Homo sapiens: one gene and its partners. The protein of the gene in region 3 purifies or fractionates together with the protein of the main gene of each other region. This does not show direct contact. Each region holds a gene or a part of one and is shown on either strand. Other genes may lie near its edges.

The links.
Region 1: the proteins of UBFD1 (region 3) and SH2D4A fractionate together in Homo sapiens (co-fractionation; one large-scale study listed by BioGRID). This does not show direct contact.
Region 2: the proteins of UBFD1 (region 3) and EIF4E fractionate together in Homo sapiens (co-fractionation; one large-scale study listed by BioGRID). This does not show direct contact.

Annotation. Positions count from the first base shown.
Region 1 is NC_000008.11:19,358,579-19,362,233, reverse strand, and holds part of SH2D4A (SH2 domain-containing protein 4A), read right to left. Parts: intron 1,032-3,655; coding exon 920-1,031; intron 1-919. UniProt on the Homo sapiens protein: Inhibits estrogen-induced cell proliferation by competing with PLCG for binding to ESR1, blocking the effect of estrogen on PLCG and repressing estrogen-induced proliferation. May play a role in T-cell development and function.
Region 2 is NC_000004.12:98,881,455-98,884,288, forward strand, and holds part of EIF4E (eukaryotic translation initiation factor 4E), read right to left. Parts: intron 1-2,834. UniProt on the Homo sapiens protein: Acts in the cytoplasm to initiate and regulate protein synthesis and is required in the nucleus for export of a subset of mRNAs from the nucleus to the cytoplasm which promotes processes such as RNA capping, processing and splicing.
Region 3 is NC_000016.10:23,571,176-23,574,830, reverse strand, and holds the end of UBFD1 (ubiquitin domain-containing protein UBFD1), read right to left. Parts: 3' UTR 442-3,655; downstream 1-441. UniProt on the Homo sapiens protein: May play a role as NF-kappa-B regulator.

The DNA of each region.
Region 1 (3,655 bases), on a different chromosome or scaffold from region 3:
AAAGAGCCTACTGGATCTTGCAAATATTTTCATTTCACAGTAGTTGTCATTTAAATGGCATTGGTTGTAATGGGACTGCAGATCAATGTAGGATCTCAACATCCTGCAAATATAGCCATACCTGCTGTCTTCCTCAAGCCACCTCAGGTTGATCTAGCAGTTCAGATTTCTCTGAGTCAGATGGAAACACTAATTCTTTCACAAACCTAATTCTTCTAGCATTCTGGAGCATCCTCTCCTCTGCCTTCAGTTGCATGGGCTTATTCTTCTCCTATGAGTTTTCTCACCCATTCTGCTCACTCAAATAGGAGTCAAGGCTGGGTCACAGGCAGGAGCGGGATGCTAACACATCCAGCCTGGTATTCCTGTGTGCTTCTGATTACAAAGTTAAAATGTATTCACTATCAAAAATTTAGGGGAAAAAAAATCCAAAACACAATATTAAATTACAAGAAAAACATTCAAATAAATAATCTTGAATCTCACCTTTCCAAGAAAACTAATGTTTACATGTTATTATAACCTTCCAGTTCTTTTCCTTCAGATACTTAGACATTTCTAAATAGCGAAGCTTTTCATTCTATTTCATGGTGTTTTTTCTTCCCCAAGCTAATGAGATATAAACAGTCTAAGATCATTAAACACTCTCCAAAACCTATTTTCCATAGCTATATATCATGCTATTTGATAAATTACATCATAATTTTGGTGATACAGAAATAAATGGAGAACGAGTCTGCTGTTCAAAAGTAGCCTGTAAGCATTTGAGTAATAAGTTAGTAATAACATTTGAGTGGTAACTTACTGTGAACATATCTCTCAACAACCCACATTAAGCGCTTTCTAGATTGATCACATTATTAAGGGAGAGAATCAGCTGAGAGCCTGGAAGGTGCTATGGAGACCTCTGGGTACTCACGAGATGCCTGCCATTCCGAGTCTTCTTTCCAGCTCTTACAAATCTGCTTCGTTCTCTCTTCTTCTATTTGATTTATTTCTTCATCTTGTTTTTTCTTCATAGATTCTTTCTTCTGTTTAAAAACAAAACAAAAAAAAACAAAAACAAAACAAAACAAAAAAAGAACCTTGGTGAGCAAATCCAGCAGTTTCCTGAAGGACGGGGTACCCGGCACAGCTGACTTCTATCTAACTCTCTGGCCCACTAGGAAGGATCAAGTGTGGACTTTGGAGTCAGTAAGACCTGAAGTAAGACTGACCATTGCTAGCTAGTGTGTAACTCCAGGAGCAACAAATGAACCTCTCTTGGGCTGTTTCCCCATAAGAAAGATGAGAAAAAAATATTTCTTAGGGTTATATTGAGGATTAGATAACTTAAGAAGTCCCTGGCACAGTGTATAACATATAGTAAGAAAAAATATTCCTTTTCCTCAGACACAGTACTTAGCTGCTTCAAACTGACTCCCTGAAGGATGTAAACACACTATTACATAGAACTAGCATCAACCTACTTTACAGTAGCTGACAGACTCCACAGAAGAAATGCACATTCCCAGAGCAATCTCAGCTGAATCTCTCCCCCGAGTCATGTGTCCCAAAATGTGGTACTTACTACATGATTTTAAGTGTTTCAAAAGAAATATATATCATTATTATTTTTTTAAGATGGAGCCTCACTCCTTCGCCCAGGCTGGAGTACAGTGGTATAATCTCGGCTCACTGTAACCTCTGCCTCCCAGGTTCAAGCGATTCTCCTGCCTCAGCCTCCTGAGTAGCTGGGATTACAGGCAAGTGCCATCACACTTGGGTAATTTTTGTATTTTTTGAAGAGATGGAGTTTCACCATGTTGGCCAGGCTGGTCTCGAACTTCTGACCTCAAGTGATCCACTGCCTCAGCCTCCCAAAGTGCTGTGATTACAGGCATGAGCCACCACACCCTGCCAGAATATGTATTTTTTTGTTTCAAAAAAAAAAAAAAACAGAAAAATATTTTTCAAAAGCATCTTTTGAGAAGGGAGAAATACTTTCAAAATGTAAATATTCCTTTAAAAGGAGAATTAGGTTTTTAAAACTTAGGGTAAAATTCCACATAACAAAATTTACCACCTTAACCATTTTTTAGTGTACTGTTTTCTGGCATTAAGAGCATTCAACGGAAATCATTTTAAACGAAAGAGAAATGAACAAACCAAATCACTTAGACCTGAAAAGTACTTTGCTTATTTGGACACAACCTTCTGAGTGCTCACAAGACGACTGAATTTACAGTTTGGTGGACTAATAAAAGCCTTGGTTAGCTAAGCAATAAAACAAACTGAAATGGCCAGAAAGGGCTGCCTGTGCCCACCTCTCTATCACAAGTGACAAGCTTTTTAATTTTGTGCTTTCCCACAGAAATGTAAAGACTTCCTTGCTATTATGTCACCACAACGTAAAGTATAAACATTAATATTGTGAAACTTGTTTCTGATCGCTCTGGGCAGTCATAAATCACAGTTCAAGTAATCATCATTCATAAATTGTGCTTCACTGCAGATGTAACTAAACTTCTGTGCATTTACTGTTTTCATTTTTTTTTCCTTACACTGTTTTCCTGCCTAGAGCTAAGCTCCTTTTGTTTGCCAACATTTGAAAATCCAAAGGACAGCTTTGATGTTTGAAAGGACTGTTAAAATTTGCCATCCTTTGATTGAAGCTGTTTGCCAGCCCAAGATAGATACATGTGCTGCTAGCAATTTCTAAGCTTAAACAGAAAAAGCTTCAAAGTGGAGCTTTGTTCATCCTTCCACATGCATACGTGTTTATTTTTAAACGGTTAGGAAACATATAGTGAAAACATCAAGCTATGATCATCATGGATATTGTTGCTGAGGATAAGCAAGAAATTTGGAACATGACATGATTCTACCTAAGAAAAAATATTAATAATAACAGATGTAGTACTTGGTTGATGTTACTCAAATGTCTAACAGAGCTATATTTAATAAATCTACTCCTTTAATCTGCATGTAATTATGTACATGCACAGTGGAAAAGAAGAAAAATTAACGAGTTTCACAGAGTAATAGCAGATGAGATCTGCTATTACCCATCTATATACGGCCCTGACCACCGTATTTATTCAAGAAAGCTAGAAAACGTAAGGAACTTGTCCTGCGTCTCTGAGAGAATTTTACTTTTATCAAAATCTGTAATGGTTTACTTTCTCTATTCAGAAGACCATCATTTCCTTTTCAGCAGTGTTTTGCTGGAAGCATGTTGGACCAGGACTCAGGACTGTCAGCCAGGCATGGGGAAATCCAGGTGATGGCTTGGAGTGGAGGGGCGGAGGGGCCGAGGCTGGATGCTAATCCAGATGCCCAGGGTGGAAGGTGTGGAGACCCAGATGTGTGGTGTGAGCTGTGAAAATGTGTTCAGCTAACAGTACCAGAAAACAAGGGCACGCTGGGCCCATATAGAAAGCCGCTGGGCCCGTTCAGAAAGCCTCTTGTCCAGCCTGTTGATGGAAGCACTTAGAATGCCTCCCCACCAATTCCTTCATCAGAGCCTCACAAGTGTCCCCAAAGGAGGATGCCTCTGTTTTATCACCTTTGTTCTACAGAGAAGCTTAGCAAGCTGGCTCATTCATTCTCTCAAATGATCAGCCCTTTCCCCACCATGCCAAGTGAGGTAGTGCCTCTGTGTCTTTGACTTGCT
Region 2 (2,834 bases), on a different chromosome or scaffold from region 3:
AAGTAAGGACAGTCCCTGAGCTGACTGCATTTATAGTCTAGTAGAGAAAACATAATCAAATAATCACAAATACATGACAGACCTGTATCACATGCATACTTAAAAACAGAAATCTGTAAAACAAACATGTTTCATTCTTTGATCTAAAATGTTACATTTCACGTCTGAACCCTAGCAAATATTGTATATTACTACACAAATTATATTAACCATACCTGTTATAAGACTGCACAAACAAAAACTAAACACTTTGAGGGAGATTAAACACTTCGAGGGAGTGAATGAAACACTTCGAGGGAGAATGTAATTTCTGCTTTACATACTAACTTTACAACCTAATTTTCAAGTAAGACATGACTCTATTGCAAGAATAAAATGGCACTTGTCATGAGTGCCAAAGAGTAAACATAAGGGCTGTGATACTGTATAACAAGGAGATTCTAATCTCATCTACAACATTAGAGAAGTCTTCCCCTTTAAATATCACGAGGTCAAAAGGATAATGTTAAGAGAATGAGCACATTTGAAAGCTGAGAAATAAAAATTAGGCTGTGTGGCTATGGCTTGTAAGTAAAGTGAACATGAGATAAAGCTGACAAGGTTTCAGAGGAAGATCACAGAGAGCTTCATAGGTCATCTTAAAAATTTGAATCTTTGGCTGGGCGCGGTGGCTCACGCCTGTAATCCCAGCACTTTGGGAGGCCGAGGCGGGCGGATCACGAGGTCAGGAGATCGAGACCATCCTGGCTAACATGGTGAAACCCCGCCTCTACTAAAAATACAAAAAATTAGCCGGGTGTGGTGGCAGGTGCCTGTAGTCCCAGCAACTCGGGAGGCTGAGGCAGGAGAATGGCGTGAACCTGGGAGGCAGAGCTTGCAGTGAGCTTGAGTGAGACTGTGCCACTGCACTCCAGCCTGGGTGACAGAGCAAGACTCCGTCTCAAAAAAAAAAAAAAAAAAGAAAAAAGAATCTTTAGGAAAAAAATAGTAAAAATTCAAAAATAAGCAAAAATCAAATAAAAATAAAGGAATAAAGATATTAATGGAGTTAAATCCTCCAACATGATACTAGGATAGGTTTTTTTTATACCTTCCAGAAGATTTACTACCTTCCCCCTAAAATAAGGTATTAAAAAGTAATTTTATGGTAACTAAAGTGTTAATTATCAAATTTGCATTATAATGCAATGCATTCCTTTCAATTATACTTAATTATTAAAAATGTCAAAAAGCAAGACCATTGAGTCATGCAAATTGGAAGGTTAAAAAAGAAAATCTTCGTTTGAAAATCTGAAGTCTTAATATACACTCAAAAACATTTAATATTGACAAAAATACAAAACTTCCGTAGGAAAAAAATTCTTAATTTAACTCATTTAAAAAAAAAAAAAGTAAATCCTCCAAAATTAGGTTTTGATGCTGGAAGAAACATTAAAATATGATGACAAATCAACTCTTTTCTCTTATGGAACCCCATATAGCATGAAATGTAGAAAATCCCTATACCTTTTGATCCAGAAATAAATTATGTTCACATAAAAATTTACATGGCTGAGAGCAATGGATCACGCCTGAAATCCCAGCACTTTGGGAGGCTGAGGCAGGTGGATGACTTGAGGCTAGGAGTTTGACACCAGCCTGGCCAACATGGCGAAACCCTGTCTCTACAAAAACTACTGCAGTGGTTCAGGCCTGTGGTCCCAGCTATTCAGGAGGCTGAGGCAAGAGAATCACTTGAACCCAAGAGGTGGAGGTTGCAGTGAGCTGACATCGCGCTACTGCACCCCAGCCTGGGCAACAGAGTGTGACTCTGTCTCAAAAAATTAATTAATTTTAAAAAGAAAAATTAATAATATTTGAAAAATCACAAAGGGGCAAACCAAACATTTTGACCACTGACTGACCAGCACTTAATTTTAACATAAAATTGTAAGTCAAATTTTTTTTTTTTTTTTTTTTTTTGTGAGACAGTCTCGCTCTGTCTCCCAGGCTGGAGCGCAGTGGCCCAATCTTGGCTCACTGCAAGCTCCGCCTCCCGGGTTCATGCCATTCTCCTGCCTCAGTCTCCCAAGTAGCTGGAACTACAGGCGCCCGCCACCACGCCCAGCTAATTGTTTTTTTTGTATTTTTAGTAGAGACGGGGTTTCACCGTGTTGGCCAGGATGGTCTCAATCTCCTGACCTTGTGATCCACCTGCCTCAGCCTCCCAAAGTGCTGCGATTACAGGTGTGAGCCACTGCGCCTGGTGTCAAATATTACTAATATAATTGAGGTAAAAAGAAATCTTAGAAAAAAAATGTCAGCTGGTTTAGCATGGTGGCTCACGCCTGTAATCTCAGCACTTTGAAAGGCTGAGGTGGCTTGATCAAGTCCAGGAGTTCATGACCAGTCTGGGCAACATGGCAAAACCTCTTCTCTACAAAAAATACAAGAAAATAGCCAGGTGTGGTCATACACACCTGTAGTTGCAGCTAATTGGGTGGCTGAGGTAGGAGTATCACCTGAGCCCAGGAGGTTGAGGCTGAAGTGAGCCATGACTGCACCACTGCACTCTTGCCTGAATAACACAGTGAGACCCTGTCTCAAAAAAAAAAAAAAAGCCACTTTTGCAAAGAATAAAATTTACAAAAAAAGGTTTAATAAAACCCTACATATGTGGGTTTTAAACATGGAACAAAAACCAAGATATGTTATATAAATTTTAATGAAAATTATACGTAGTAAACACACATGCTTTAAATGCACATATACTATTTGCCAATAATCACTGAATTATTATTATGAGCATACATTAGCTCTTTTCAAAGTAGTACTTTTTTCCAAACAGCACTTTC
Region 3 (3,655 bases):
AGCCTGGCCCATTTTTTGGTAACAGATTTTCTTCCTCCCGACTCCTGGGTCTTTATAGCTTGTGGCTAAATCTGTAGCTCCAATCTCAGTGTTTTCTAAAACATGTCCTCAAAGGCTAAATGGCTAGGTGGGGTTGCCCAAGGCACTAGTCAGGAGGTGTGAGTACAGGGAGGCAGCTTCTCTTCCAACATGTGGAAGCCAGGGCCCACCAAGGAGCAGACCATGCTGCTCCAACAGGAGTGTGGCTCACTGTCACACCGGTCACTTTCACCATTTTGCAGAGTAAATGTCAACTGTTTCAGCAGAGAATACATTTGAATATACTTAAAGCCAAATAAGACCACAACTGGCAAAGAAATGGCTCCAGGTCCAATTCCAAATGTTGGTTAATCCCCAGTATGGATTAGGCGCATGAAGAATTGGAAGGAAAAAGAGACGCAATTAATTATCAAACTTTAATCGATTGACTAATCTTACAGGATAAACAATAAGACAGCTATTCAAGGTTACACTTTAAAAAAAAAATCCAGCAGTGCAAATCTAATAGACTAAATACGTTCATCTCCTCCCAAACAGGCATTTGATTTGAAAACAGAAACCAGAACAGAGCATACACCACAAGGAAACATGGTACTTACAAATATTGTCAAATAATTCAGCAGAACTCTTTAAGAAAAAAAAAAGGTTCTTAGAAATTGAGAAAGCAGTAGAACCACCCAGCCTGGCAGATCAATCTACCAGATGTTCTGCATGCGAGAGGGCTCCCAACCACCTGTAACTTCAGAAAGGCCGCCAGGCACTATTACGAAGGAAACAGGTGCAGATCCTAACTGGAGATGACTTTATCACAAAGCCTTAAGACAAAGGGACCATCCTCTTCCAAGACAACAGGTGTGAACAGAGGCAAGGAGCGAGAGGAGAGGGCTCCCTCAGCAGATGGGTGGAAAGCAAGCCTGCCCTTGCACGGCCCTTGGCACACTCAATCTACCCCCTTTCCCTTCTCTGCCCCTGGCAAAGAAAGGCTGGGCAAGTGCAAGAGCCCAGAATGGCTCCTCCAGGCACATGGTTAAAGTAAGAGTAAGAGGAAAACAAGCCCCTTCTGGGTGAAATATGGCAACTTTTCTGAGACATGGCAACGAGGCAGAGTTAATCTCTTTGGCCCTCATCAGGTAAAGCAGCAACTAAGGAGCCTACTCAGGGCCTTACGTGGGCCCCTTCTATGTCCACAAGAAAGTGCATCCTTAGCTCAGTTCAACATTTAAAAAGAGCTAACGCTACTTGCAAAAGGCCCACCATGGATTCAAACACTTAATACCAAAGAGGTCCAGCAACTCGCGAGTCTGTCTGTGTTCTGTGATCTGAAGCAGAGCTAAGGGGGGCCTGGCTCACAGGGTCACGCTCTTCTGCCAAGGCGCCTCAGGGAGGGAAAAAAAGGCATGATGATGTCTGTGAGCCAGAACCTGCAGGAGGACCACCGGTAGAGATTCTAGAAGACAAAGAAGCCCTCAGGAGGCTCTGAGAGGTGTCCAATGTCTAAGAGACGGCCACCCCCTCCATCTCTAGCTTCGAGTCAACGCTGTTACAGTCACTCTCCGGAAACCAGCTCTTCCTTTATCCACCTGCACGGCCCCTGCCACAGTGAGGGAAAGATCTGGTCCCTCTGACAGTAAGGAAATTGTATAGAAATTATCCTGAGGAAAAAAAAAACCACTGTGACGCTACCTAAAAGAAAGAGTATTTCAATTTGCTTACACAGATTTAGTCAGTACACTCCAGACTGTAAGAAATGTATGAAGAGACTGCTTACGGAACTCAAAGACTAAACAGTGAATACTACTGTGGCCCAGACACGGATCGAAAACACTTCTCCCAGTGGCTTCTGGTGCTATGTCTGCTCTCCCGAGAGCGTCCAGCAAGGTCTTCCATGCAGACAGGGTGAGGAGCCACAGAGCTCAAGATTGTTGAAGCTGATTTAGTGAGCTCTGTAAAGCAATACTCAAACAGCTCCGTACGAAAAGGTGTCATTTACATTATTATTTATATATAGTATCTCGAAGTAAGGAAAAAAGCACCATTTTACTGAAAATAAAAAGGCTCACGCAGGCTTTGGTCCTCCTGAAATGACACCAGCCTGAGTGAGAAGCAGTTGGCCCTTGGGGAGCGGGGAGATGATGGAACGCTGTCACCGGCAAGAAGGGAGGCCAAGTGGCCCGGCAAGCCACAAGAATGGGGCAATAAGGGGAGCAGGTGGAGGGGCCTCGGAGAGCAGCCAGGCTAGTCTGGGGATGGAGCCACCTGCTCTGAGAGATCAAAAGTAGGTGTGCGGCACTGTCAGGACAAGTCTCTAGGACTGGGGCATTGGCAAACAAAAGGGGCAATGTCTGACCCGAGATGATGTTCTACTTAATGCATCTCATTTCCCCCAAAACCTGTCACCTGCAGACAGAGGCTTGGACAAGTAGCTCAGATGTACTCTTTTCCCCAGGAACTGCAGGCCGACAAGGACAGAAAAGCTGCAATGACTGCTCCTTTCTCAAGGGATGAAAAAACAGGCTGTTTCTTGGATGCTGCACTTCACAAATGTACTAATTGCCCCCAAAAAAGCAAAGAGTAGATTTTCCTGCCTAGATGCATCACTTGGCATTGACTACACCATGGAAAGCAAGAGTCTGTCTATGTGGGCTGGATTCCTGAACTACAGCTTAGAAGGGAAGGGCGTAGAATATCATCATTAACTGGCTCACAAGGAATAGTCATCTTGGGCGAACACATGCTAATACGTTTCACAGAATGAGGGGTGACAGCCTAGAATCCAAAATGTGATGTTTGGAACATTTCTCGCCAAACCTTACTATGAAAGCCTGCAACCAGTGAGAGGAGAACTGCAAAGACGGCAGCAGAGAAACAGCAAACAGCACAAAAGAGATAATTTACCAAGAGACTTTCCCTCCTTTCAGAGGCAACCAAGCCAGAAGGAGATGACAGAAGTTCACGTGTACAGAGAACAGAAGGGCTAAAACCAGAAGAAGGTGAGCTAATCATGAAAGCAATTTATCCCATTTTTGTTGTTCAATAACACTGGCCAACCTGCTAGGGTCAGATGTCTTCTTCAGAAAGGCAGCATCTCTGAACCTGGGATAAAGGACACTTGAACTGAATGCATGAGCAGAAGGACCCAATGGAGAAGCATAATTGAAATCATCCTTGGACTGCTTAAGAATTTCTTGAAAACTTCCAAAGAAAGAAGGTTATCTGGATCTGCAGCTATATGGCTGTATAACTATCTTCTACCTGGCTCCTCCTGGAAGAGGTCTTTGTCTGCTTGGGAGCTGGGGCTGTTGAGCGGCACAGCCCAGGCACAACCATGCCAGGCTGGGCCTCTAGGCCAAGCTCAGTGAGGGGTGCAGACAATCATCCAACCAGCAATGGAACTCCTTGGAGATGGGGGCCCAAAGGGCAAGACATTTAAACAGGAGTCACTGGGAGATACTCTGCTGCTCAACGAACACCACAGCAAGTGTGAGAGCTCCTTGCCCAAGACTGAGCAGCTCTTCCTCTCCCACCGTGCGTTCACAGGCAGCAGCAGCACGGCGGGAGGGAGCCCAGGAAAGGAAGCGTTGATGAGGTACCAAAAGAAGAACTGACATCTTTGGGT